Homo sapiens: one gene and its partners. The protein of the gene in region 3 interacts with the protein of the main gene of each other region in a pairwise test. Each region holds a gene or a part of one and is shown on either strand. Other genes may lie near its edges. The genes, in order: EBAG9, SLC22A23, CLN6 and KIR2DL3.

Region 1 (7,025 bases), on a different chromosome or scaffold from region 3:
GATAGAAGTTAATCTGGAGTTTTACCAATCCTAACCTTTTATGAGATTGTAAATTACCTTAGATACTAAGATCAAGGTCTCATTGTACACATGAAAGATAGAGATACAATGTTATTTAAAAATATAAACATCAGAGAGATTACCATTAAAATGAGAGATTAACCCTAATGGTAGATTATTTTAAAGTGAGTTATGAATTGTTTTCTTCATAGAGTGTATTTTCATTCAAAGTATGACTTAATTTTAAACGGTTTGACTTAAATGAAACTTTTTAAAGGAAAAATTTATGAAACAAGTAGACAGCTGAGGTTCTCAACCTTGGGAGCATATCAGAATCAGCTTTGGAGGTTTTTTAAAAGCACAAATGTCCAGACCCCTCCCTACCTAAGCTTTAAGCATGCTTTGATTGATTGATTATATTATCTGTTGTTGTGTAACAACTCCAAATTCAGTGACTTAAAATAATTACAAATATTAATGTAACACAGTTTCTGTGGATTGGGAATCCAGGTGACTAAACTGGGTGGTTCTAACTCAGAATTTCTCATGAGTTTGCAGACAAGTCATTGGGTTGGGGCTACAATCATCTGAAGGCTTGATTGTGGTCGAAGGATTCATTTCAAAGACAGCTCACTTCTACACCTGACAAATTAATGCTATTTGTTTGCACAAAGCCTCAGTTCCTTGCTGTGCACCTCTCCAAGGAGCTGCTTGAATTTCTTTATGATGTAACTCCTGATTTTCCCAGTAAGTTATAAGACGGTGAGAGCACTTGCTCATGGGTGAGGGTGACACCACAATGCCTTTTTGTGATGTGGTTTTATAAGTGATACACTGTCACTTCCATGTTATTTCATTAGAAGCCACTAAATCCAGCCCACATGCAAGCCTCCACCTCTTGAAGGAAGGAATGTCAAAGAATTTGTGGACATATTTTTAAATTACATCTGTCTGTCAATCTATGTATTTTATTTGTTTGTTTAAACTGCACAGTTGCTTCTGAGGTCCCTCTTCCCAGGGGACCCATGTATATGTATGTTTTTAATTCATTGAGTAAAAACACTGTTTTTACTAAAGCCAGGCCCTGTGGCATTAAAGGGTCTTTGCCTCAGAAAAATGCATTCTAGTAGGGGAGACATGATATTAAATGAATGATCACACACGTCAATATAATTACAAACTTTGATAATTCCTATGCAGTTACACGATGCTATGAACACATAACACCATAAATACTTAGCTGAATAACATAGCATTATAATGTTTTTTATTTTATATATCTCAAAATTAAATTTTATTCATAAATGTTTGATCCATATTGGTGAAATGCTTTAATCCCACCCACTGAATTAGCAATATTTGCCACCTAAATATAATTATAATACTATCATAGCTCATTGTAAAGTTTTAAATATACAACTACTTACAGAGTTGAGAAGGGGTAAATAGGGTAGATGGAGAATGTCTCCACTGCTATTTCCACGTATTTTCCTCCCAAGCAGACAGAATAAAGGGGCATTGCATAGGAGAGGATGGTAACCTATTGGACTTTGTTTTCTATACCAAAAATATCTTACCATTCATTCTACAAATTAGATTCTTCTTTTAAACTACACATTTTATTCTTTTCTAGAATTCATCATTCGTATTGTTGTGAGAGTTCTTTTATACCAAAGATAAATGTCATGTTTTATACTTTTTTAGTTTGTTAATTGGTTTGGATATTTTTGTTGGGCAGGTGTATTTAGTTTTTATGTAGACAAATCTATCAATGGTTTCCCCCTTTTCCTTTTTACTAAGGCCATCTCTACTAAAGGATCAGATACCACCCTTTTTAATGGTCTCTATAGTTTTACTTTTTAAAAAAAATCTAAATATTTTATGTACTCTAACAGTCAAATACTTTAGTGGAAGAATAGATAATATGAATGGGAAATTTACAAATAAGAAATAGACATAACCTAATTTGAAGAAAAGCTTGATCTTATTAGTGCTCAAAGTAGGCCCAGTGAGGTGTTACATGCCTGTAATCTCAGCACTTTGGGAGGCCAAGGCGGGCAGGTCACTTGAGCTCAGGAATTCGAGACCAGCCTAGGCAACATGGCGAAATCCCCCCTCTACAAAAATTAAAAAGTTAGCTGGGTGTGGTGGTGCGTGCCTGTAGTCCTCGCTACTTGGGAGGGACTGGGGTAAGAGGATTGCTTGAACCCAAGAGGTCGAGGCTGCCGTGAGCTGTGATCACACCACTACACTCCAGCCTAGGTGACAGAGTGAGACCTTGTCTCAAACAAAACAAAGTAAAATAACAAGATACAATTTTAAATCTTGTCAAATTAGTAAAGATAGAAAAGAAAGCCAGCCGAGTGCAGTGGCTCACACTTGTAATCCCAGCAATTTGGGAAATTGAGGCAGGAGGATCACTTGAGTTCAGGAGTTCAAGACCAACCTGAGCAACATAGCTAGACCTCATCTCTAAAAAAATGTAAAAAACAATCAGCCAGGTGTGGTGGCATGTGCCTATAGTCCCAGCTACTAGGGCAGCCGAGGTGGGAGGATCCCTTGAGCCCGGGAGTTTGAAGCTGCAGTGAACCATGATCACACCATGCACTCCAGCCTGGGCAACAAAGTGAAACGCTGATTCCTAAAAAAAAAAAGGGAGAAGAAAAGGCAGGATTTCTACCTACTGCGGTCAAGAGGATAACTTGGTACTTTTCAAGGCTGTCATTTGCACTTTGTTTCAGTAGCTTTAAAAATCCTCCTTTCAGAAATGTATATTAAATAATTAGAAATATTTTAAGAATTTTTAACAGAGTATGGTATTACATATATTCTCAGGAGAAGAAAACTCAAAACATTCTATTTCATTTTTAGGGGTAAGTATTTAAAACAATATGATATTAAATAAATGTGTTCACAGATTGGTACCAGTTATTTTACACACAGTCACTTCCACACCTACCTAAACAGTCCAGCATGACCATTTTCATTGGTTATTGAAAGAAAACAGTGAACTTTTAGAGGTCTGGCTTGGGAAATAGAGGTAGGGACCAGTAGATGATACCAGGTAAGAAAGACTGGGAAAAGGAAGCATGACCTAGAAGTATTTCATTAAAGATAAATTTTGCATGATTTGTCATTTTTGCCTAGGATTGAGACAGTAAGTGCCAATAAAAAATCTCCAGTAAGTTACATATGCTTAAATGAAGAATGACTGTGCTAGTTTTTGAACTTCAGCTCGCAGTTCTTCTCAGCACAGATTAGTCCAGTCAAGGATTTCTAATTCAGTCTGGGATCAGTCAGTTTCTTGTCACTCTATCCCCAGCTCCCTCATCTTACTGAGGAGAGAAAGAAACAAAAGACATGTTCTGTTCTTGTTCCTTCCAAAATAAAGTACAGCAAAGAAGAGAATTTAAGAGAGTATCCCATGAAACATAAAGAAGAAAGCTGGCCTTGCCTAGGACTGTTGAACACTGAAAGTCATACATCAGTTCTAGGCAAGCCAAAAGCAAAATCATCTGTGCCTTGTATAGGACAGGGTAAGGAAGCTGAGAAGACATAGGAGAATGACAGGTTCTGAGTTATGTGTTAAAAGATACTCTTTTTAACGGCTATGTGGAGAAAGGATGGCTTTTACTCTCTTAATTTTGTTTTACTTTTCATTGTAGTCTGAATTAGGTGACTTAGATACCTGGCAGGAAAATACCAATGCATGGGAAGAAGAAGAAGATGCAGCCTGGCAAGCAGAAGAAGTTCTGAGGTATTTGAGTGGCATTTATATTGCAACCTGAGTAGAAGAACTAGATTTCTTCCCTGCTGTGTTTCAAGTCAAGGGAGCCTATTTTGCCAAATATTATATTTTTCTTCATTTGATCCTTAGATAATAAGGACTTTTTTTTTTGTATTTCAGACTGCAGATACTATTTTATATGATTAAAACCTCACAGAAACCAAGAATTTTAAGCTCTATAGGAACAAAATAACTTTATTAATGGCAAATGGAGTGTTATATATACATGTATATAAAAGGTTTTATATATATGTTTTATATATATATATATAAGGTTATATGCATATACATACCATATTACAAGCTTGATATTCCTCTAGGTCAGAAGTTACAACTTTATTTCCATTTCCTCATGATCTAGCATAGTGCCCAGTACTGCTCATTTGAGTGAAAATAACTTATGTGACACTCTACATTTGTACATATATCTTAAATGATGTCCATGAAAGCCCTATGTGTTAGATGAACTACCCATTCTGCAAAAAAATACTATTCTGGAAGTTTTAAAGTTCATTTTTATTGGTTGTTCTTTTTTGTGTGTGAGCAGCAAACATATTTCTTAGTACTGCTACATTAGGTCAAAGAGTAAAGAGAAAATTTATCTTAAGGGAGAGCTAGTGACTGATTACTGCTTTTTAAAAGTCAGATATTTAAATGCATCTAAAGAATTCATACATTTTTTAAATTGTGTAGTAAGATACAGCAATATAAATTTTTTTATTTTAAAATTGAGATTGTTTTTACCATAGGAATAGCAGACAAATTATTCTTTATCTGACTCAACAAAAAAACTGATTTCATTTTTGTATTTTCCTTTCTTGGCTTTGTCAATAAATTACAGTTACTGTGAACAACCAGCAGAGGGTGCAGCTAAATAACTGGGAATTTTGTTTGAAGTTTTTGTTTTTTTCCTTTGAAATATATCAAGCCCTTTTTTTTTTTTTTTTTTTGCAGGTTAGGGGACGTCACATTTCAAAATTCAGTCAGTAAAATTGTGAGAGTTTTTAAAATTTAGTTCTTATTTAATCAGTATAGCTTATCTTTTATAAAGGGAATATTTTTTAAATTGTGAACTATAACACTTAGGATATTGCATGGATCATCAAAAAAGATAAATCATCTCTTTAAAATTCTGTGTTATTTTAAAAAACAAATAATAGATACAGATGTCTGAGTATTTTAAGACATTTTGGGGATTCTAGTAATTATTAGTGCCATTAACCACAAAGACAAAGGAAGGGGTCTGTCCTTTTTAAATACAGTAATCTCACTGTAGAGTTCAAGCCATGAGTTCACAAGTATCTTAATATTGTACAAAAACCTTTTCTTTTTCATTCTAGCCTCTTAACCCCTAAGCAAAACAAATGAAAAAATGTACTTAAAAACTTAATGTTTTACCCTTTAAGGACAGCTTGGGAGAGTGAGATTGTTAATCCGTAATAGACATGCTTCATGCCGCAAGTACATAGGTAGAGCCAAAGAGAAATGGAGGTGTCAGTACATTGTTACTGCCCCTGAATAGACATTGAGCATTTTAAAAGTGTATCCACATTCCGTATTGTCTAACTCTGAGCTTTTTTCCTGTTGCCACTATAAATAATGCCAGTACTGTGATCAGTATTGCTAAGAATGAAGATTCTGGTACTTTAATAATTCCCAGCATGAATCTGGATAGGTAAAATGTATTTTTGTCTGCAGCTATCTCGTAAGTTGTCTCTTTTATACTTTAGTTTTTGATACAGATTGGGTATCCCTTTCCAAAATGCTTGGGACCAGAAGTGTTTCAGATTTTGAAATTTTTGAGAGTTTAGAATATTTGTGTTCTGCTGCTAGTTCATCATCCCAAATATGAAAATCTAAAATCTGAAATGCTCCAATGAGAATTTCCTTTGAGCATCAGGTAGGCCCTCAGAAAGTTTCAGATTTTGGAGCATTTCAGATTTCGGATTTTTGTATTTGGGATGCTCAGCCCTTATATTATTTCAGCTAGTAACCAGGTCAAAACTTCGTTATCTTACTTGTTTATAACCTAGCCAGCCCTTTATAATTTTTTCTCTACCTCCCTTTTTTCTTCTGGTTTGACATTTTTAGTTCAGATTATTAGTTTTTATTGAACATCAGCAGAGTGATGAAAAACAGATTTTTTAAAACTATTCTTCAGAAATTGATAGCAAAAGTCAAAATGTTGCCAAAAATAGTTTCTTTACTTTCTTGAATTTTGGTCATCCATAACTCTGCCTACTCCTGTTTATGACTGAGAACTGTACATACATTTCACTCACTGTAGTTAATATTGAGCTCCCCCAGACATAGATAATCCACTTTGGATTTTTCTGCATATAACCTAATGTTGCCTATTCCATGCCCAATTGTGACCTGTAGCTTCCTTCCTCAACGTTGCATACTTGAATGATTTTCTCACACCCTAACCCTTCAGATCCAGGACCAATGTATGTTTACTCTGCTCTCTCCTGTTTCATCATCCCACTCCTACCTCCACTCCCTACATTAACCAATCAGTAAAGATAGAGAGAGTGAGTCTGGGTCAGTGGAGTTACGGAAAGAGTAAGGAACAGGTATGTATTTCACAAAGTATGATTAGTAAATACCTACCACTCTTTTTTTTTTTTTTTTAAACTTAAGTTCAGGGGGACATGTGCAGGATGTGCAGGTTTGTTACACAGGTAAACATGTGTCAAGGGGGTTTGTCGTACAGATATTTCATCAGCCAGGTATTAAACCTAGTATCCATTAGTTATTTTTCCTGATCCTCTCCCTCCGTCTAACCTCAGCCTTTCCGGTAGGCCCCAGTATGCATTGTTCTCCTCTATGTGTTCATGTGTTCTCATCATTTAGCGCCCACTTATAAGTGAGAACATGCAGTATTTGATTAAATACCCACCACTCTTCTCTTTGGTAGAGTTAGTCACATGTTAATCCTGAAATTTACTTGGTGGAAGGTGTATCTTAAGTTTCCATTTTCTTTTTGGAGCGTGTGTTCTGTTCAGCTGTGTTCATCATGCACTTTAAAAACTGGCTGTTTGTAACTACTATAATAACAGGAGATTATCAAGCTCAATATCAAGCTTTTCTGAATGGTATCCCCAGAAAAAGATGTGGTTCAATGGAAGTATTGTTTTACAAAATGGAGATAATCTAAATAAGAAGTGTCAGAAGATGTGAGTTCTTATCCCTGTACTTAATCCTATGACTTCGGGCAAGTCACTTAGCCTTTATG
Region 2 (7,517 bases), on a different chromosome or scaffold from region 3:
TTATTTAGATCTTTTTTGTCTGTGAAAATCAATATGTCCTTTCTAGGCTTTACTGTATAAGAAAATGTGTGTCTAATTATTGTTCCCAGGTTTCCCCTCTCAGTCTGGCCCAGTAACTGCAACGTGTCATCAAGCATCACCCAAAACATGCCACACACATGAGGGCTGTCTGTGACCCTCTCGAATGCTAATTTAGAAAAACTGCCCAGCTCTCCAATATGCCTCCATAGTCTGCTTTTAAGAACTATTTTTGTTCTCTCCTCCCACCGTGCATGGCTGAGTGTGAATAGCTGTTTCCTGGGTCCTCACTGCCAAGGTAATGGCACTCTATCCCATCTCATCACTTTCAAGTTCACCTCTACTTTGACCCCAGGACACAGCGCTCTTCACACATACTCACTTTGATCCATTATTCTCCCTCTGCTCTAGAAAGACACTTGAAATACTTAACAATGTTGCCAAATCCTCAGTCTGTCAGACATACACAGTGATTTAAATAGTCATTGTTCTTAATTTTTCTTTGCTGCTAAACCAACAAAGAAATATTGCCCTCCGTGAAGGGAAAACAGTCACAGAAACACCTTTAGAAAGCAGGGGGTAGGAGGTGGGTGGGATCAAGGTGAACCCAGCTAGAAGGACCTTCCCCATTACCTTGCAGGGCAGCAGGGGCAGCTCAGTCAGACAGTTCCCACAGGACAGAGCATTTCTGGCCAGGTTGGTACAAGATTAAAACAATGATTATGATGATGTAAGAGTTTATCTTACACATCCATGAGCTACAACTGTTAACCAATGCACACGGGGGGAGGAGGTTACATGCACATTGACTATTTAAAACTGTCCAATTTCATACATTTCGACAAAGCATTTAAAACTCTGCCAGAACAGCCCAGAATGGGTAGCGGGTGGGGTGGAGGAGAGTCTGTATTTACTTTAAAATGTGAATTAATTAGTTTAGACACAAGGAGCAAAACTACAAATGTCTTGATATCTCTTATATGTTAAGAATAAAATTACAGCTGTCTAGGGGCATTGAGTGTCCACCATTGCCCACTCTGTGTTTAGGCCTTCACACTTGTCTCACAACTCCCTTCTGCTACATTTCACACCACGCAATACCTCTGCAAGGGAGCTTTAGCTACAGGACTCAGAGGACAAGGTGCATGTTTCAGCTAAAGCACACCCCCGTTCTCAGTGCCTCAGCCCAAAGCAGCTGCTGTGTAAGAGCGGTGACGGCCGGGGAACACCCAAATGACATATTCTCCGCGTCCTTCCTATACTGTAGTGATGTTTACTGAAGTGCTGAGAAAACATGGGAGGAGACACTGGGGTAGCAAAGCCTAAAGTCAGATATCTTTGGGGAGGACTAAGCATCGGCTGCGGGTTGGGGATTTGCAGGAGTCTTTGCTTCTCTGGCTCTCCAGTTCTTTAGTAGGCTTTACCTGTGTCAAAATCAAGTGCGAGATGGAAGACTATTGCTTTGTGGGAGACCCAGGGACAACTAGCCGGGCAGAACAGGGCTGTGGTCCCGACTCCCCCAGCAGACCTTGAACGACGCCAGTCCGACTCCTCCAGAGGGGGCTGGTGACAGGTCAGCTGCCTCGCCCCGAGGGTGGGGGAAGGGCGCGCTTTCCATCCGCGTACTGGGACAGGAGTTTGGGTGCAAACTAGTAAAGGCTATGGTGCTCCCTTTACACCCAAGTAAAGGCATGTGGTTTGGGGGACGGAAGGAGATTAAGCCAATGCGGAATGCCCTACACACACTCTAGCACCACCACTTTGGGGACTTCGGTTCTCCCGCTGGCTCGGGCTTGGACCTCGGTCTGCAGGGAGAGGGTTGGAGGGACTGGGCGGCTGCGGCCCTTACCTTGCTGACCACGTTCTGGACGAGGCCGGCGCGGATGCCGTAGTCCCATGCGCGGCAGTCACAGTTGGAGGCGTTGTCCCCCTTGTCCGGAGGGGATGGCAGGGGTGGTGTGTCGCCTCCGTCCGCGCCGCTGCTGTTGCTCCGGTTGCCCGCAGCCTCCCAGGGGGCAGTGGCGAAGGGGGTGGTGGGGAGGCTGGTCCAGTTGCCCATGTCCCCGCCCCGGCCTGTGGTGGTGACCCCTGCCAGCTCGGTGCCTTTGCCGGCCCCGCGGCACCAGAAGTTGGGCTGGTCCAGGAGGAACGAGTCCGAGAACTGGCTGAAGCCGATGAACAGCGCCGGGATCCAGGTGAGCAGCACGAGGGTCTTCTGATAGCCCCCGCCCAGGCCCCCGAGGAAGGGCAGCACCGACCCGTCATAGTCCAGCAACAAGAGGCTCGGGGCCGCAGCCGCGGAGCAGCAGCTCGGGTGCGGGCCGCCTCCAGGATGCAGTGGGGGCAGCGGCTGGATCTCCGCGCCGCCGCCGGGGCCCGCGCGTCCCCCGAGGGGCGCCGAGGCCGCCGCGTCCCCGGGCGGCAGGGAGCCGTTCTCCTCGGCCGGGGCCGGCTGCCGCCCAGGCCCGCCGCCCGCCGCCTCGCGCCGCCGGTCTATGGCCATGGCCCGGGCCCGCGGCTCCCGCAGAGGCGCATAGAGCGCGGCGGAGGCTCCGCGGGCGCCCCGGGCACAGCGCGCCGGGCCAGGCGCCTGCAGCCGCTGCCGCCGAGGAGGGCCCGCGGCTCGAGAGAGAGCGCTCGGCGGCTCCGGGTGCGTCAGGCCGCCCCCATGTCACCCGCCGGACCCCGCGCCCCGGGCGCTGCGGCCCCGCTCGGGCGCCGGGCAGAGGCGGGCAGAGGCCGGCCGGGCCCTCAGCCGCCGCGGCTCATCAGTTCCGCGGCCCGGGCGCCGGCTGCCGAGCCCGCCGCTCTCCGCTGCTCCGCGCCGGACGCGGCAGGAGGAGGAGCCGGCGCCGCGCCCGGCCCGCGCCCTTGCCGGCGGTTCAGGGCCCTGCGGGCGGCGGTGCGGGCAAAGGCTGCTGCTCCCGGGGTGGCCGCGCTGTATTTCTCCGACTTCGGGCGCCTCCCGGAAGCCGCGAGCTCTGGACCCAGCCTGCCGAGCCGGCCGCGCTCTCCAGCTCCTGGAGCCGGCCCCACTCCTCCTCCTCCTCCTCCTCCTCCCCCTCCTCCCTGCCCCCCGGCCCGCCCCCTCTCCCCCCGCCGAGGTGGAGGTAACCGCGGCACCTGCTGCGCTCGGCTCCTGCTCGCGAGCGCCCCCTCCAGCCCGGACGCGCGGCCGCCGCCGCCCGGGATCCACGGGAGGGGGGCGGGGGAAACGGGACACCCCGGGCCCGCCTGGCTGGAGGATCCCCTGCCCGTTGCCCGTTTCGCGCCGGGCGGGGCGGGGGAGGAGGAGACGCGCGTAGCAGGGGTCGCCGGCCGGCGACGGGTCCCGGCAAAGTCGGCGTGCGCTGAGAACGTGTGGGCCGGGTCTTCTCTGAGGCTGGGCTCCCGCAGCCGCGCGGGCCCCCCACCCACTCCGCGCGCGCCAGGTCTCCGTGACCTCTGTCTCTTCAGAGGTGCCCGGCGGTCCCGCTGCCCGCGCCCCGCTCCCAGTCCCAAGCCCGAGGGTCTTCAGCCTTCGGGAACAACCCTCTGCGCTTTTTCCAGGAGCGAATAAGGTTGATTTTTGTGTCCGTGGAGCAGGGTCAAGGAGGCGCCTTTGCCAATTTCAGGTCGCCAGTCCCCCGCAGTGTCTGGCCACCTGCGACCCGCCGCACCCACTCCCAAATCGCCATTTCTTCCCCCACTCCTAAGTGCATGCGATGTAAGCACGATGCTGGGATATATCTCCAACACAAGTTATAATACACACAGTATAAACGTGATGGCATTCCCCACCCCCTCCCTAAGATCTTGTATTCACGTTTGGAACGCCGTGTGCACAGGCGCACACATCTATACTCTCACACAAGAAGACAAACCTCTCCCTCCTCTCCTGCTCCAGCGCCAACCTTGCCCAGCCAGCGCTGTATAAATAACACCAGCCCTGCGGCAAACGGCTACATTAGCATATTTCCTCCTGCACCCAGCGCACGCACCAAAGAGAATTATCCGGCACCTTTCAACCCAGCGTCCCCACATTTTGGAGGCATTTCATATTCTGAGAAGTTTATTAATGGAAGTCTTAAATGGAGCAATCCATTTCTAGTCTTATTTGGGGCAAAAAAAAAAAAAATGTTTAGCTTTCCAAAAGGATATATTCTAAGCTCCATATACTGAATGTATTCTTTTGCATTTTCATTATTTGCTCAGCTAACCGCTGCACAATTTAGTGGAATACATTTTTAACCTGCAGTTCAGTGTTAAGGGCAACATGTGTTTACTGCATAAAATGCTGGCACATACGTACCAGAGAACTATTTCTGAAGGCTGCCGGGGGGCGGGTCTTGGGGGACAGGGGAGGTTGTGGACCTTCCTGCGTGGCCGAGAAGGGGTGATTAGATAACAATGGGCGGAAGGGGCCCTAAGGGCTGCAAAAGACACCAGACCGCTGAGAAATGGGTCTGGAAACCACATATATAAAGAGCTGGGGGCTTGGGGCGGGGGGGGACACGATAGTGCACGTTGTGTACGTGGTAATTTTTCAACTTCACATTATTTATTAGCTTAACTTTTCTTTTCCTTCCCTCTCCTCCCCTCATTTGAAGAGCTAATACATGCAAAGTTCTGACCTCCATGCCTGGAACAGAGTAAGTGCGCAATGAATGTTAGACATGTATTATTACCAGTGCTCCTCTTGCCATTACATACAATCCACATTTCTTTTTGAATTGAAATATAACTTTACGGATTTTATTTATTTTCCTTTCAGTGGCTGATTTTCCAGAAGAGGTCCACTTTGTGTCTGGCTCTGCCTCCCTTCCCCCACAGTCACAAGGACCCATTTGTTTTCTTGTAACTGATCACAAAAGGAGCATTGCCATTGACCTTAATGGCCCTTCCAATCAGAATAACTATCATAGCCAGCGTTTCAGAGTTGGCTTTCAAATTCACACTCTCACTCAGTCCTCACATTCAGCGCCCCAAGAAGTGGGCTTTCAAAGAGAAACAGCAAGGATCAGGTGACTGACTACCAGATCAAAGAGTTGGTCCCCAGCTGAGCCAAATATCTGGTTTTGAACCCAGATTTTCTGACTGGACATTACCGGATTTCTCCATTTCATCATACAGGGGCAACTATAGGGAAGAGTTTACAAAGATGTTTGTTAATGTGCATTTTTACGTGGGAGAAGCCCTGGCCCTAGGAAAAGAGTTTCATTGTGAAGATGTTATTAGTCTTTGTTCGCAAAAGGTGGTAAAAATCCTCAAATGGTACATTCTTAGAATTTAGGGACACACTGGAAAATGGTATCCTCTAAAACTGAAGCTAAAAGGAGGCAACATAAAATGTTTGAAATTAACTAGCTGCAGCACTGACCCAGGCATTGTAATTAAGCTGTTGATTAGATTAGAGGTTTCCCTAAATTCCTCCTGGATTGATATTTCCACCAAATCTAGTCAAGAAGATTAAAGTGTAACTACTTTAAAATAAAGTGGCCTTCAATTTATTAAAACATACCACAAGTGATCTCATAACGTGAGCAAAAGGAGTAAAGAGGAAGAATTTGACACTCTGACAGCCTCAGTGGGTGAGGTTTGAGATCCATGGACCAGGATAGGAAAGCCAGACACCTGTTAAAAAATTACTGTTTTTAATTTTCTGAATGAGCATTATCATCAGCTGCTATTTTTCTTGTTTGCTTAGTTAGATTTACGTTCTGCCTCTAGAATGTAAGCACCTTCGGGGATAGGTGCCTTGTGCTCAGCTGTATGCTTGGTGGTTAAAACAGTGCCTGGTACATGCAAGGCACTCAATACATCTTTGTCAAATAAATGAGTGTATCAAGTTATTAATCACTTGATGATACTGTCTATTCAAATCATCAAACTGTTTACTTTGTTTCTTAAATCATCAAGCAACCTTTTTGTGTTTGTTCATCTCTCAAAGATGGTGCTCAGATCAGCCAACATGAGACTTGAAATGAATTTGACAATTATATGTCTTGTTGTAAGGCATTGTGGTTACTGGATTAGCTCCCAATATTATCTTCTCTTGGGCAGTATTGGCTTGCAGATGGTGGCTTATAGGCCAAATGCAGCTCACAGACCATAGGCAATGTTTTCAGGAAAATAATTGCTAACATTTCAAAATTGGGAGATTGAATACTTAGAAAAAAATGTGTTTTGGGCTTCTCTGAACATCATAGCAGAAGCCATTGTCCTTTTGATGCCCCATGTTTGCAGGACCGTGCTTTCTTGGACTGCAGTAAATGAGCAGGCACTCTCCAGCTTGCCCTCATCCCTGCCTGACACATGCCCCTCATGCATGACATTTGGCCCCCAAAAGTAGCTGTGTTTGTGACCCTAAATTTATGTGAGTATCCTGAACCCAGTGATCTTAATAAAGAAGCTGAGTCATTCCCTTTTCCTTTGAAAGTATGTTAAAGAATCTACCAGTTTATAGTTTTCTAAAAATTGAGAAAATAAGGAAAGGAAATGAAAGTCATAACCTAATCACCAATACATTTGAACAGTTTTATTTCCTTGGAGATAACAGGAGAAAAAATGTTTTAGCTTACCTCTAAAATTGATGGAAACCTAATTTTAAATCCTCTATAATTCTGTAAAAGTTAATTCTAAGGAATTCAAGTCAGGGTTAATTAACTTTAAATGTACGCTGCAAGTCATACCAAATGTATTTCACGTTGGTTTCTCTGATTATTCATGGTCTTTATACTTGAATTATAGATAGATATATCACATTTTAGAATATCCTGTGTCATTTTTTTTTTAAACTGCAGCTTGATTTCTTCCTTTCAAATAACTATTTGAAAATTAGGTTACCTTGATTTTGGGAGGGTGGGAGAAAGTGATTGAAATTATTTCCAACTCTAGTTGTGTATACTTGAATATTATTTATATCATCCTTTGCCTTTTGGAATATCAAGTCTGACTCTTTAACAAGAAATTTGACATTTACAAAACCTATCATAAATGAAAATGAAAAAGCTACTTTGGTTAAGTGACAGAAGTAATAAAAATGTCACATAATCTATCCTAAGGAAAGTTACAGGTAGTATCTTGAGAAAAACTACCTACTCATCTAGTACAAGACAAATTCATCAAAAGGCCAAGTGAAAACAGAAAAAGTGAAGATAAGACTTCTATGCAAAAAGCTACTCCATTGTAAATGTGATGGCTAGGGCCCAGTTACTTTCAAAGTTTGGTCAAAATTTAATTTTGAAGTCTTTTATTGAATTAAAAAAATTAGTGAAGCAAATCGATCTAAAATTTGATGTTGGCTTTTGTTTGATGAAAATCATAGATGTCATCTTTGTCTTACTGTACTTAAGAATGTTCTTTGGGCCAGGCACGGTGGCTCACGCCTGTAATCCCAGCACTTTGGGAGGCCGAGGGGATCACGAGGTCAGGAGATCAAGACCATCCTGGCCAACATGGTGAAACCCCATCTCTACTAAAAATACAAAAATTAGCTAGGCATGGTGGTGCGCACCTAT
Region 3 (7,256 bases):
TGCTGGGATTACAGGCATGAGCCACCACACCTGGCCAGTAGATCGTATCTCAAGGGTCGTGGTTTAATTAATACATGCAAAAACTTAAGAGCAGGGCCTGATCCATAAAAAGTGCTAGTGTTTTTTATTGTTATAAACATATTATTTGGAAATAGGAATTTGACTCTGGAAAAAAGAGCTAAAAGAAGCTAGGGTGATTGTCTCTGGTGCTAGGGAAGAGTGGGACAGGGATTACTACTTTTTAAAACTTGAAGCCTTTGCTATTTGATTTATCACGGGCACTAATTATAATACTTTCTTTTCTTTTCTTTTTTTACTTTTTTTTTTTTTTGAGACAGTCTCACTGTCATCCAGGCTGGAGTGCAGTGGCGCCATCTCGGCTCACTACAACCTCCGCCTCCCAGGCTCAAGGGATCCTGGTGCCTCAGCCTCCTGAGTAGCTGGGATTACAGGCATGGGCCATCACACCTGGATAATTTTTGTATTTTTTAGTAGAGACGGGGATTCTCCATGTTGGCCAGGCTGGTCTCGAACTCCTGGACTCAAGTGATCCACCCACCTTGGCCTCCCAAAGTGCTGGGATTACAGGCGTGAGCCATGGCACCCGGCCTAATTGTAACACTTTCATTATAATACAAAAACTGGCAACAAAGCAGGTGGACGTTGGAATGGGTTACCTTAAGAGGTAGTGAGCAAAGCACGGATGCAGCAGAGGAAATCCAAGCATCCTAGGAACTGGACAGGATGATTCTGCCTACTCTCTTGAGCAGCAATGATACTGGGAATGGGCTGAAGCCACATTGTGGGGGGCAGAGACACCCTGGGAGACAGAGAGCTCCCACCCTCACACCACCCCCCTGGGAATACCCTGGCTGGTGGGGAGCTCACACAGGGGAAGAGGGACATGACTCCTTAGCAGCCAAAGTGGAGTCGTAAGAGCAGAGCCCGTAAGTCAGAAACCCTGGGTTTAGGCCCTGGTTCTTGCCAGCAAATGATGTAACCTCTTTGGGCCTCCATTTCCCCATCTGTACATTGGAAGTGACATCTGGCAGCTCATTGTCAAGACTGAGTAAGATGCTAGACATGGGAGCCCCACACAGGAGATAAAGTGGTGACCCTATCTGAGACCCACAGGCTGTTCCCATTGGGCTGTCACAGTTCAGGGCAGTCAGTGACCCCCAACTTGGCAAGGATTCGGAACAGAGACATCCCGCAGGCAGAAGAGGCTGCCTGGAAGAGGGGAGCTGGTAAATGGGTTGGGTCACAGCAGAGATGAAACCACTGGACACGGCGTGGGGCAGACAGCCCGGGGACTCAGCCAGTCAGGCTCCTCAGCCCATCTAAGCCTATTTCCTCATCAGTAAAATAATACTTAACTCACAGGCCGAGGGAGACAGGTGAGCTACAGTATGCGGTCTATGGCCAGTACATTGTTTCTAAGTGAAAACGGACACAGTCCGCAGCTGCTCAGCCCGCATGTCCGCAGCAGCAGAAACGAGCCATCCCTCACCTCAGCCCAAGCGCTCAGACTTCTCCCTTCATCCAGGTCGTACCAAAAACTTCCTAACAAGGACTTTGCGCATGCTAGTGCTCAGAAACTTCTCACGACTCCCCAGTGCCTATGGGATAAAGACTGTGTCCTTAACCTGTCACCTAGGACAGGAACTAGGGTGAGACAAGCAAGGCCTCCAAGGCCCAACATTTGAGGCGGCACTCACGGTCACGGCAGTGCGCCTACCCCTAAGTTTTGCAATCTAGGTCCTCAACTCGAGTCCTAGACTTGCTGCAATTAAAGGCCCTTCACAATCAGTCTGCATCCTCCTGTCACTTTCTTTTACAGCCGGAAAGCTCCAGCACCACTAAACTCCTTGCCCTTCCCCACTGTTTCCCTGGATGGAACAGCCTGTCTTCCCTGGGTCCCCTACCAAGTCCTCTGAGACTCAGCTCAAGTGCCACTTCCTCCATGAAGCCCTCCAAGATGACCGCTCACTCCCACTTGGGCTCTGTCTCTCCTGATCCCTACAGGACCGTAAGCCTCTCCCACCTTCACCCTGCCTACCCCCTTACTGCCTGGCACAGCGCTGGGCATACCACAGGCGCTTAAAGAATGCCTGCTGAATGCAGTGAATGTTTCTGGTCAGTAAAACGGGACGAAGGTAGAATGGAGCTCTGCTCGCCCAACGAGATAAACCAAAAACTGAGAAGGGCTCCTCATTCATTCTCTGGACGGCAGCTTCCGCCCTTCCCCGCTGTCTCTTCCATTACATTCGCACATTCTTGGGTGCCCCAGGTCAAGCAGACAGCCTCCTGATAAATGACAGAATCAAGTCCTACTCAGGGCTGGAGGGACCCCGAGAACGCGGAGGTGGCGCCCGGAACTTGCGGATAAGTTGGGGGTCCGAGTGACGAGGTGTGTGTACCCACCGCCCTGGGGAGCTCTCCCAGCGCAGCGGCTGTCCCGGCGCCAGCCCGGGTCGCTGGAACGCGGGAAGGGAGGAAAACCCCAAACTTCGGGCGGGCGCTCCTCCCACCCGAGCAACGGCGAAGCGGGGAGGCCGAGCCCCGCTGGGCCCCAGGCTCCCCAGACAGAGAAGGAAACGCGGGGGCACCGCCGCCACGGTAGCGCGCCTCCAAGCCCCCCGCGCTCCGCTCCGCCCCGGCCAGCGCCGCACACGAGGTTCCCGCCCGGCAGCCCTAGGAGCGTCACGTGGCGGGTCCCGAGGCCCCAGCGCACAGGCGCCTAGCCCGCCCTCTCACCCCGGCGCGCGCCCACCTGGCCTGCAGGAAGGAGGCGCCCAGCTGCGCGCCTGGGCCGCCCGTCGCTCCCAGGTGCTGCCGCCTCCGCGTCGCCTCCATGGCTGCCCCGCAGGCCCCTCGGCCCTGCCTTTCCGAGGAAGAGACCGGTTCAGCTCGGCTGCCCCGGCGGAGGCCGCCGCAAATTCCCAGCGCGGGGCGGTTCGGGGCGGGCCGGCGAGAGCGCGCGGCCCTCGGGAGGAACAGGCGGGGCTGCGGACCCGGGGCGGGGCGGAGCGGAGCGGAGCGGAGCGGAGGGAGGCGGGGCGGAGGGAGACGGGGCGGGCTCCGCTAGGGGAGGGCCGGGCGCTGCGAGTGTGGCGTCCTCGCGGGGCGGGGGCTGCTGGCCTGTCCGGGCTGCGCGCGTGACCACCAGCGGGCTGGGATGTGTTAGGGTCCCTTGCCTGCCTGGGTACGGGAATCTCTGTCTAGGGTGACTGAGGCCTGGGTGTTGGGCTGGGGCGGGGTAGCGACCTGGAGATAGACTAAGCTGATTTAAATGCTCCCCGGGGCAGAGGGTTCTGTGGGATTTCCCTTGTTCTTACGGGTGGAGGAGAGGAGGCAGGACTGGAGACCTGCACGTGTAGCACCCGCGTGGTGCAGCACGTGGGTTGCAGATGTTCTAGTGAGGGGCTGGCGGTGACAGTGGGAAGGAGCGAGTTGGTGACATCTAGAGTCGTGTGAGAGGTATGGTGACTGGGACTCTGGATGTGGGGGGTGAGGGGAGAAGAGTTCAGGCAGTGGCCGGATTCTGCCCCTGGGTGGATAGTGGAGGCACCCCCCGGGAAGTGGGCTAGAGCAGATTTCGTGTAAATAAAGATTCATCTTTGAACGCATTAAGCTTGAGGTGGGTCAGGAAGGCTGTTGGACCGGTGGTCTGAAGCTGAGGCGAGACCTGGGAACCCAGTGGACAGGCTCGTGAGTCACCGGAGCATACAAGACAGACAGAACCTAAGGGGACAGCATCCTCAAGTGAAAAACAGAACCAAAGGTCAAACCTGAGAACAGCCTGCAGGGCAGATTGCCAGGACTTCATTAGTGGTACCACTTTGAACTAGCTGTGATGCGGGCAAATGGCTCAACCCCTCACAGCTTCAGTTTACTCATCTGTAACAAGAAGATGCCTATTGCATCTACTACATTGGAGTTGTGATGACTATATGAAACTCTTAGCAGAGAGCCCAGCACTGGTGGACTAAGTTATTTACAATAGCCCGTCTCGAGACCTGAGGTTTCCCTCCACAGAAAGGTTACCTTCCACACCACTGTCAATGTCACAAACTCTCTCCTCCCCACGGTCACTGTCAGCAGCCCAGGCCGCTAACTAGAACAACTGCAACCAACTCCCATTCTCCCCACCACCCCCGTGCTACACCAGGCGCACACGACATGTGCAGGTCTCCAGTCCTGTCTCCTCTCACCCAGCCCTCAAGCCGCTGCAGAAGGGATGTGCCTCTTGGAAGGGATGTGCCTCAGATGCAAATGCAATGTGCCATTCCCCTGCCCAGTATCCTTGGTCTGCTTCCCAGACCATGAGGGGTCTGAGCTATGCCTATTTCCATTCTATTTTCTTTCCTGTCTTTCTTCTTGGGAGATGTTTATTGGATTTATTTCTTTCCCCTTTGGTCAGAACCTGCATGTCCTTTCTTGGCTGTGGGAGGCTAGGACTGCCTGCCTGGGAGTCATTTTCCATCAGCCCCATCCTGGGCTCTAGCAGCCCACAGGCCACACCTCAATCCCCCCCCTCCGCCCCTGGTCCCCTGAAGAACACATTTGCTTTAAAGCTTTCCTTGTTTCATTTGATCCACACACACCAGGTCGTAAGGAGAACAGGTGATTGTCTCTGTTTTGTAGCAGAGAAAAACCTAGGCCCTGAGCTGAAGTACTGTGCCCAAGGGTCAGCCAAGGACAGCACTCAGACGGGGCCCCAGATTTAATTCTGGTGAATCTGATCTACACATCGATCTCGGTATACACCAGAGAAGAAGGATTGAGGCTTCCCGCTCTGACCCCAATTTCTTATCCTCTGCAGGCTTTGCAAGCCTGCTGGGCTCCAGAGGGAGGGGCATGCAGTGCCCATGATGTCATCATCGATTTAATAACACTCAGAGGTGGGCTTCCAGCCATCAGAGGATGAGGCCGTGTGGAGGGAGCCTCTCTAGCTCATTTAATCCTCCAATCTCTTAAATACAAACACATCTGCCTTTTTTCTGGAGTCCGCTGCTACCCCTTGAGGGGAGGGGAGTCCAACCTGGCAGGGGGCTGGGCCTTTCTGAATGAACAAGATGAGAATTCTCCCTGTCCGGTGGGATTATCAGCCCCCTCTCTTTCCCATCCCACCAGGACACTTTAAAAACACCATCTTCATTAGCTCTTTAAATTGCATGGAAATTTGGGGGAGGAGGATAGAGTAAAGCTGAGGGGTACACATTTGCAGGATCTTGTTTGTGATTATCTGAGAACATGGGCCCTGCACATCAGAAGGGAGTCTAGTCTCAGCTCTCTGAGCTGCAATTTCAGTGGCCAGCATCAAGAAATCTTTCAGCTGAGAAGGTCCTTTGGTATTATGCATCTTGGTGGTTTTGACTTTTCTTTTAGTAGAGGTTCCCACTACTTTTCAATTATAGCTGTATCCGATATTTTTTTTTTTTTTTGAGACGGAGTCTTGCTCTGTCGCCCAGGCTGGAGTGCAATGGCACGATCTCGGCTTGCTGCAACCTCTGCCTCCCTGGTTCAAGTGATTCTCCTGCCTCACCCTCCCAAGTAGCTGGGACTACAGGCATGCACCACCACGCCTGGCTAATTTTTTATATTTTTAGTAGAGACGGGGTTTCACCATGTTAGCCAGGCTGGTCTTGATCTACTGACCTTGTGATCTGCCCGCCTTAGTCTCTCAAAGTGCTGGGATTGCAGGCGTGAGCCACTGCACCAGGCCTGTATCAGATACTTTTAAATGTATCGCCTAAGATCCGTTAGACACACCAGTCTTCCAGCTCCTTGCCACTTGTTTTGTCCAGCTGCTGTGACAACTGACTTCACCCAGGCAGAAGTCAACTGCACCTCCTCTCCCCTTGGCCCCACACCCTTGGCCTCAGAAGTGCAGGAGTGTTGGACACTCCATGGAGTGAACTTTGACCAGCAAGAGACAGGGATTAGCAAATAAATTTTTCTCTCTTCCTCTTTCTGGACAGACTGGCCTGAGTTCCGAGTTCACACAGCCACTTTAAAGAAGGTCCTGGGCCATGCGCAGTGGCTCACACCTGTAATCCCAGCACGTTGGGAGGCCAAGGTGGGTGGACCACGTGAGGTCAGGAGTTCAAGACCAGCCTGACCAACATGGTGAAACCCTGTCTCTACTAAAAATACAAAAACGAACTGGGTGTCGTGGCATGTGCCTGTAATCCCAGCTACTTGGGAGGCTGAGGCAGGAGAAATTGCATGAACCCAGGAGGCAGAGGTTGCAGTGAGCCGAGATCACGCCACTGCACTCTAGTCTGGGCGACAGAGCAAGGCTCAGTCTCAAAATAAATAAATAAATAATAAAGAAGGTCCTGTAAGGTCTAGCATCCTTCCAGACGGAGTGGTGGCCAGCTCCGCAGTGCACTCTCTTGTGTGCCCTCCCTTCTCCTCTGTCTCACTCCCCCTTGTCCTCACTTCCCCTTCCCAGCCACCACACTCCCCAATACAGTGTTAGCATACATGCTGCCCTGCTCTGCTTCTTTGGAAACCTGGGCTAAGACAAAGATCTTTCCAGCATGCTCAATGTATGAAACACCTACGGGGGGGTGGGGGGGGTGGTGCCCTGAGTGAAGAGAAGCAGGGTCCCAGGTGCCATCTCTTCTCCCCTTATGGTTACAAGGCCGTGGCCAAGTCACCTCCAAAGGGCTCCCTGGAAAGCCTTTGATCTTGCCTAATTTCATCATTCTGCAGCTGCGGAAAATGAAGCCTAAAGCCACACAGCGAGTTAGAAGCCAAGCCAGGCCAGAATCCAGTCTCCACTCCTAATCCAGTACCCTTTCTATCCAGTCTCTTAAGAGCTTTTGAAAATTTCTCTTTCTTCAAAACATCTTCCCACACTGCCCTGCCACCAGAAGGCTTTGAAGGCCCCTGCTAGACTGCAGCTACCATCTGAGAGACATGACACACAGAATCCTGGATCCAGAGGCTGGGACTCCAGAAGGCAGACAGACGAAGTGGGACCAGGAAAACTCAGTTACTTTGGAGAGAGGCAGCCAGGAGGGGCCTGACTAGGGGATCTCTAAGTGTGGGCAACAAGACTGTGCACAGTGAGAAGGCTGCACAAGGACAGACAGCAAGGGACTGGGGCACTGGGGGAAGATGGAGACTGTCTTTCTGTGTCAACTGGTATTGCCTGCAGGACACTCCCCATCTGGCTGAAGAAGCTGGGAGGGTGACCAGAAGTCACACTGTGGGGAGAGAGAAGGTCCCCAGGTTGTGTTTAA
Region 4 (7,025 bases), on a different chromosome or scaffold from region 3:
GAAGCTGGCACCATGGAGAAGGCACAGGCATGGCAAGAGTGGCTCCCAGTCCCCACCAGGAACAGGGTGTGTGGACACTGGTGCCTGCCTTATTCATCAGTTCATACCTTCTGCCAAGGATTGCAATTCATCCAAAAGAGATTGAACCAGGCTGATAAGAGCCTGGATGTGCAGCCTATCCTGGTTCCTCTTTCACCCCCACATAAACAGCAGGAAATACATTAGTGTGAAATAGATACAACACCCCAAGAGATGAGGCTCAGCCCAGTGGGAAGGGAATCAGAGGCTACTAGAGACAGAGGGACAGAGAAGAGGGAGGGAGACAGATGGAAGGACCTGCACCAGGAGTTAAGGGCACAGAAAAGAACATGAAGACACAGAGAGGAAGGAGAGAGACAGACACCAGCAAGGGGAAGCCTCACTCATTCTAGGTGCCATGGATGGGATGATAAAGAGAGACACCTTCTAAACTCACAACCTCTCTTCCTAGGAGTCCACAGAAAACCTTCCCTCCTGGCCCACCCAGGTCCCCTGGTGAAATCAGAAGAGACAGTCATCCTGCAATGTTGGTCAGATGTCAGGTTTCAGCACTTCCTTCTGCACAGAGAAGGGAAGTTTAAGGACACTTTGCACCTCATTGGAGAGCACCATGATGGGGTCTCCAAGGCCAACTTCTCCATCGGTCCCATGATGCAAGACCTTGCAGGGACCTACAGATGCTACGGTTCTGTTACTCACTCCCCCTATCAGTTGTCAGCTCCCAGTGACCCTCTGGACATCGTCATCACAGGTGAGAGTGTCCGGACATTCTCATTGTCATTGGGATGCAGAGTGAATGATCCACGACTTGGAACCCCCAGGTAGTTGTAAGGAAGATGAGCTTGGTATTCTTATGGAGAGAGACTGACTTGCTGAGGTTTGTACCAACAGAGACAGAGAAACAGGAGACACAAGTACAGACCAGGTGTCATAACAGAGGACAGACACAGGGGCCATACAGGGAGTTAGAAAAGACAGAAAGAGTTAAAAGAGACAGACAGACAGACATGTCCCAGAGAGAGGTGTCCCTCCATGCTGACTTTGCTCACAGACCTGGCACAGGTTAGAAGTTTCATTTCTGTTTTACCTCCACAAAGTGTTCTCTACCAGGAGAACCCAAGGACACCCATATTTATGACCTGAGTTGGGCCCTGTGGCCTCAGGCCTTGTGGCACCTACAGGCCATGTTTATTCTGACACCTCTGCCTTCCATGTAATGGAGAGTAATCGTCCCAGGATATCATGGCCCCAGAACACCAACCCCTGTATGCTGTGTGAACTTGTGGTCTCCAGACTGGATTCTGTGGCTCACATTCCAAATAACCCCACATATGAAAGGATCACTGAGAGGCACAGAGAAAAATCAGGAACACCAAAAAGCAAAGACATAAACACACAGAGAATGAGCCAGAGGAAGGAGATTGAGAGACTCACAGACACATAAAGAGAGAGAAAAGAGGGCAGAGGAGTGGTGAGAATGATGGCAGGGAGCAGAGAAAAGCACTAAAATTAGAGTCCTGAGAGAGAGGCACAAGGACATAGAAACATGGAGATGTGGGGATGAATTGCAGAGATTCCAAAGAGAACTAGAGAGACCGAGAGGCAGAGCAAGACAGATGATAGATGGATAGATATAGATAGATGATAAATAGGTAGATGATAGATAATAGGTTAAAGATACATAGATGATGATTGATTGATTCATTAATAGATAATACATAGAGATGATGATGATGAAGACAGATAATACGTACAGATAGAGAGGCAGACAGAAATCATAGAGAGAGAGATGATACATACATATAAATAACAGATGATTGATGGATAGATAGACAAGTGATAGATACATAGATGATATATAGATATAGATGACAGGTAGAGAATTTGTAGATAGGCACCGAATAGATAAATAGATAGATCGACAGATAATAGATAGAAATATGCAGAAAGTTATGAACAGGACACAACGTGAGAAACTTAGAATTTAAAAAAGTAACATCAAGTCAACCAATCCAAGGAGAGTCAGAGAGAATAAAAGAATCCAAAAAGGGAAAACATATCTAGAGGTGGGGAAGCGAGGTCAGAGACCTAGAGAGACAGAGAAGGTGGAAGAAGGAAATAGACATGAAGAGAGATGGGGTGGAGGGTGAGAGAGAGAGAGAGAGAGAGCATTAGGTCATAGAGCAGGGGAGTGAGTTCTCAGCTCAGGTGAAGGGAGCTGTGACAAGGAAGATCCTCCGTAAGGAAAATGCCTCTTCTCCTCCAGGTCTATATGAGAAACCTTCTCTCTCAGCCCAGCCGGGCCCCACGGTTCTGGCAGGAGAGAGCGTGACCTTGTCCTGCAGCTCCCGGAGCTCCTATGACATGTACCATCTATCCAGGGAGGGGGAGGCCCATGAACGTAGGTTCTCTGCAGGGCCCAAGGTCAACGGAACATTCCAGGCCGACTTTCCTCTGGGCCCTGCCACCCACGGAGGAACCTACAGATGCTTCGGCTCTTTCCGTGACTCTCCATACGAGTGGTCAAACTCGAGTGACCCACTGCTTGTTTCTGTCACAGGTGAGGAAACCCCATATCTGTCTCATGTCCTATGATCCTAGAGCCTTAGCTGAGGAGCTTCCTGCTGATGATGGAGAGAAGCATGGACAGATGCAGAGAGAAGACGAAGCTTGGGTGTGAGGGAGGGATCAGGGCACAGGATGGCAGACAGGGCACCTCCAAACCCTCCTACACGGCCTGCATGAAGGCCCGCGGCCAGGGCTCCAGGCACACAGGCAGATGGAGAAAACGGTCAGGAGAGACCCAGAGGAGAGAGACTGGGCTCAGTTTGGGAAGATCAGAGGTTCCCTCAGCCCCTCAACATTACCCATTTCCCAGAAGCCCATCCTGGCCTCTCACCCACACAGGGATGTCATCACCAGCAACCCCTACACCCTTTACTTTTGTTTGAAGAAATATTTATTGAGGATAAATATACCTATATAGCTTACCACCTTTAACATTTTTTTTTTTTTTGAGGCAGAGTCTAGCTCTGTCCCCTATGCTGGAGTGCAGTGGCACAATCTCAGCTCACTGCAACTTCCGCCTCCTGGGTTCAAGTGATTCTCCTGCTTCAGCCACCTGAGTAGCTGGTGCTACAGGCGCGCACCACCACGCCAGGCTACTTTTTGTATTTTTAGTAGAGAGGGGGTTTCACCATGTTGGTCGAGCTGGTCTCCAACTCCTGACCACGTGATCCACCCGCATCTGCCTCCCAAAGTGCTGGGATTACAGGCATGAGCCACCACGCCCAGCCACATTTACCATTTTTAAGTGTAAAGTCTAGTGGTCATAAATACATTTATATATATATATATATATATATATATACACACACACACACATATATAAACATATATATATATATATATATATATATATATATATTTTTTTTTTTTTTTTTTTTTTTACCCTCCACCCTTTTATTCCTGGCCTCTGGAAGCCACCATTCTACTCTCTACCTTCATGAGATCCACCTTTTAGCTCTGTATATGGGTGAGAAATGGGAATCTTTGTAATGACTTCCAGTTCCATCCATGTGGCTGCAAATATCAGGATGTTATTCTTTCTATGGATGAGTAGTCTCCACTGTGCGTATGTACTACATTCTCTCTATCCATTCATCCACTGATGGGCAGGTAGGTTGACTCCACATCTTGGCTACTGTGAACAGTGCTGCACCAATCATACGAGTGCAGATATCACTTCGATATATTGATTTACTTTCCTTTGGATATAAACCCAGTAGTGAAATTGCTGGATACTATGAAAGTTCTCTTTTTAGTTATTCGTTTGTTGTTTTGTTTTTGTTTTTGAGACAGTTTCCCTCTGTGCCCAGGCTGGAGTACAAGTGAAGTCATCTTGGCTCATTGCAACCTCCGCCTCCTGGGTTCAAATGATTTTCCTGCCTCAGCCTCCCTAGTAGCTGGGATTACAGGTGCACGCCACCATGCCTGGCTACTTTTTGTTTTTTTTAGTATAGATGGGGTTTCCCCATGTTGGCTGGGCTGCTCTCAAACTCATGACCTCAACTGAGGTGCCCGCCTCGGTCTCCCAAAGTGCCGGGATTACAGGCATGATCCACCTCACCCAACCTCTTTTTAGTTCTTTAAAGGACTTCCACACTTTTCTCCGTAAAGGCTGTACTAATTTACACTCCTACCAACAGGGTATTAGGGTTCTCCTTTCTCTACCACTTTGGCAGGATTTCCTTTGCCTGTCTTGCAGCTAAAAGCCATTTTATTTTATTTCATTTTATTTTGAGATGGAGTTTCGCTCTTGTCACCCAGGCTGGAGTGCAGTGGTGCGATCTCGGCTCACCACAACCTCCACCTCCCAGGTTCAAGCGATTCTCCTGCCTCAGCCTCCCGAGTAGCTGGAATTACAGGCACACGCCACCACGCCCAACTAAATTTTGTATTTTTAGTAGAGACAGTGTTTCTTCATGTGGGTCAGACTGGTCTCAAACTCCCGACCTTATGAGGTTCACCCACCTCAGGCTCTCAAAGGTCTAGGATGACAGACGTGAGCCACCACGCCCGGCCTAAAATCCATTTTAATGGGGTGAGATGAAAACTCACTTTGATTTTAATTTGTGTTTCTCTGATGATGAGTGAAACTGAGCACTTTTTAGTATGTGGGGAAATTTCATGTGTTTTGCTCCTTTTTCAATTAAATCGTTTGTTTTATTGAGTTGTTTGAGCTTCTTATATTTCTAGTTATTAATCCCATCTCAGATGCATAGTTTGCACATATTTGCTCCCAATCTGTGGGTTGTCTCTTCACTTTGTTGGTTTATTTTTAGCGGTGCAGAAGTTGCTTAGTTTGAGGTAATCCCAATGGTCTATTTTTGCTTCGATTACTTGTGTTTTGAAGGTTTAAAACAAAATGTCTTCCTTCAGACAAATGTCCTGGAGCATTTCCCCAATATTTTCTTCTACGTGTTTCATAGGTTCAGGCCTTAGACTCACATCTTTAATCCATTTTCATTTGAGTTTTGTGTATAGTGACAGGTAGAGGTGCAGTTTCATTCCTCTGCATGTAGATGTCCAGGTTTCCCTGCACTGTTTATTGAAAAGACTGTCCTTTCCTGATTGTGAGTTCTTGGCACCTTTGTCAAAGTCCATTGGATGGGCTGGGCATGGTGGCTGACACCTGCAATTTCAGCACTTTGGGAGCCCAAGGCGGGTGGATCACCTGAGGCCAGGAGTTCAAGATTAGTCTGGCCGACGTGATGAAACATTGTCTCCACTAAAAATATAAAAATTAGCTGAGCATGGTGGTCAGCACCTGTAATACCACTACTCAGGAGTTTGAGGCCAGAGAATTGATTGAACCCAGGAGGCTGTGGTGGCAGTGAACCGAGATTGCACCTCTGCACTCCAGCCTGGGTGACAGAGCGAGACTCCATCTCAAAAGAAAAAAGAAAAAAACATTGGAGGTAAATGCATGGATTATATCTGTGTTCTTCATTCTGCTCCATTGTTCTACGTGCCTTTCTTTATGCCAATGTGATGCTGTTTTGCTTACTACAGCTCTGTAACATATTTTGAGATCAGGTAGTGTGATGCTCCTGTTTTCTCTTTATACCTTGAAGTCTCAAGACAGTGGGCGTCACATACAAAAATTACGGAAAAAAGGATCCCAGGACTCCCAGGGCCCAATATTAGATAACAGAGTGTTGGCCATGAACCAACCTCAAAGATTTCCATTGAGTAGAGGACAGACACCCTCATTTCCTCACCTCTCTCCTGTCTCGTGTTCTAGGAAACCCTTCAAATAGTTGGCCTTCACCCACTGAACCAAGCTCCGAAACCGGTGAGTACAGAACCCTCTTATATCCGCTTTTGGAAACCTGGGGAGGTAGAAACCTTCGATGCAGGCATTGACTCAGCATCTCGCAGCTCTGACATTGTACGCCTGTCTTCTACCATCTCCGAACTCCAGATACTCCAACAGCGAAAGGGATCTGGGCCCAACCTAGGGCTCAGTGAAATCTCTTAATCTCTCATTTTATGGAGCTGAGACCTCCTACAAGCTAGAAGAATGATTGCCAATCTGACATCCTTCTCAGGAAAAATGCAATGTTTGTTCTGCCTGCATTCCTAACTGGAGGATAAATTCCTGGGGGCTTGAGAGAGGGAAGGGAAGGGAACATCTGATGAGGGCGAGGTGTTTTAGAGAAGTTCCACTTGCCAAGGAATGAATTACTGTTGGTCATGAAGCAACCCTGGCTGACTCAGCAGAGCAACAGCCTTGCCGTAACAGAGAACGGAGCTCATGCACGCACACTTCGACTCACTGACTCATTCAGCCACGGCCCCATGCTCAGGCTGTGCAGTGCGGAACCTTTTCCTATTGTTGCCATAACAAATTTCCACAAGATTCGTGGGTGAAAACAAAACGGTTTTTTAATTATCTTACAGTGCTGTAGCTCAAAGTAGGAAGTGCATCTTACTGGGCTAAAATCAAGGTGACAGCAAGGCTGCCTTCCCTCTGAGGATTCCAGGCAAGAATCTGCTTCTCACTTATCCCAGCTTCTAAAGGCTCCCAGTTCCTTGGCTCCTGTTCCCCTTCCTCCTTCCTCAAAGCCCACAAAGACTGGTCACATCTCACATGGCATCACTCAGTGCCTTCTTCCTTACCACACCTCTTTCTCTGAATGCTGCTCTCCCTTCTTCCTTATCTTTTGAAAACTTGGGGATTCTATTGGGTTCACCAAGATGAAAATCCCTCATAATCTCCTGGAAATCATCCAGGATACCCTTGTTTTAAGTTCAGCTGATTAGCAACCGCAATTCCATCTACAATCTTCATTCCTCCTTTCCATGTAAAATAACATATTCACAAGCTATGGAGGCTAGGACAGGGACATTTTGGGGTGGGACAGCATTCTCCTGCCTTCCACAAACGGTGAACAAGATGCATTTGGCTTCTGCCCTTGGGA

Evidence for each region.
Region 1: the proteins of CLN6 (region 3) and EBAG9 interact in binary tests that used the Homo sapiens proteins (3 or more experiments, as listed by UniProt).
Region 2: the proteins of CLN6 (region 3) and SLC22A23 interact in binary tests that used the Homo sapiens proteins (3 or more experiments, as listed by UniProt).
Region 4: the proteins of CLN6 (region 3) and KIR2DL3 interact in binary tests that used the Homo sapiens proteins (3 or more experiments, as listed by UniProt).

The regions. Positions count from the first base shown.
Region 1 is NC_000008.11:109,557,173-109,564,197, forward strand, and holds part of EBAG9 (receptor-binding cancer antigen expressed on SiSo cells), read left to right. Parts: intron 1-3,665; coding exon 3,666-3,757; intron 3,758-7,025. UniProt on the Homo sapiens protein: May participate in suppression of cell proliferation and induces apoptotic cell death through activation of interleukin-1-beta converting enzyme (ICE)-like proteases.
Region 2 is NC_000006.12:3,454,039-3,461,555, forward strand, and holds the start of SLC22A23 (solute carrier family 22 member 23), read right to left. Parts: upstream 3,013-7,517; 5' UTR 2,522-3,012; coding exon 1,868-2,521; exon of another isoform or gene 1,665-1,867; intron 1-1,664.
Region 3 is NC_000015.10:68,226,729-68,233,984, forward strand, and holds the start of CLN6 (ceroid-lipofuscinosis neuronal protein 6), read right to left. Parts: upstream 3,001-7,256; 5' UTR 2,857-3,000; coding exon 2,774-2,856; intron 1-2,773.
Region 4 is NC_000019.10:54,741,490-54,748,514, forward strand, and holds part of KIR2DL3 (killer cell immunoglobulin-like receptor 2DL3 precursor), read left to right. Parts: intron 1-490; coding exon 491-790; intron 791-2,305; coding exon 2,306-2,599; intron 2,600-5,845; coding exon 5,846-5,896; intron 5,897-7,025. UniProt on the Homo sapiens protein: Receptor on natural killer (NK) cells for HLA-C alleles (HLA-Cw1, HLA-Cw3 and HLA-Cw7). Inhibits the activity of NK cells thus preventing cell lysis.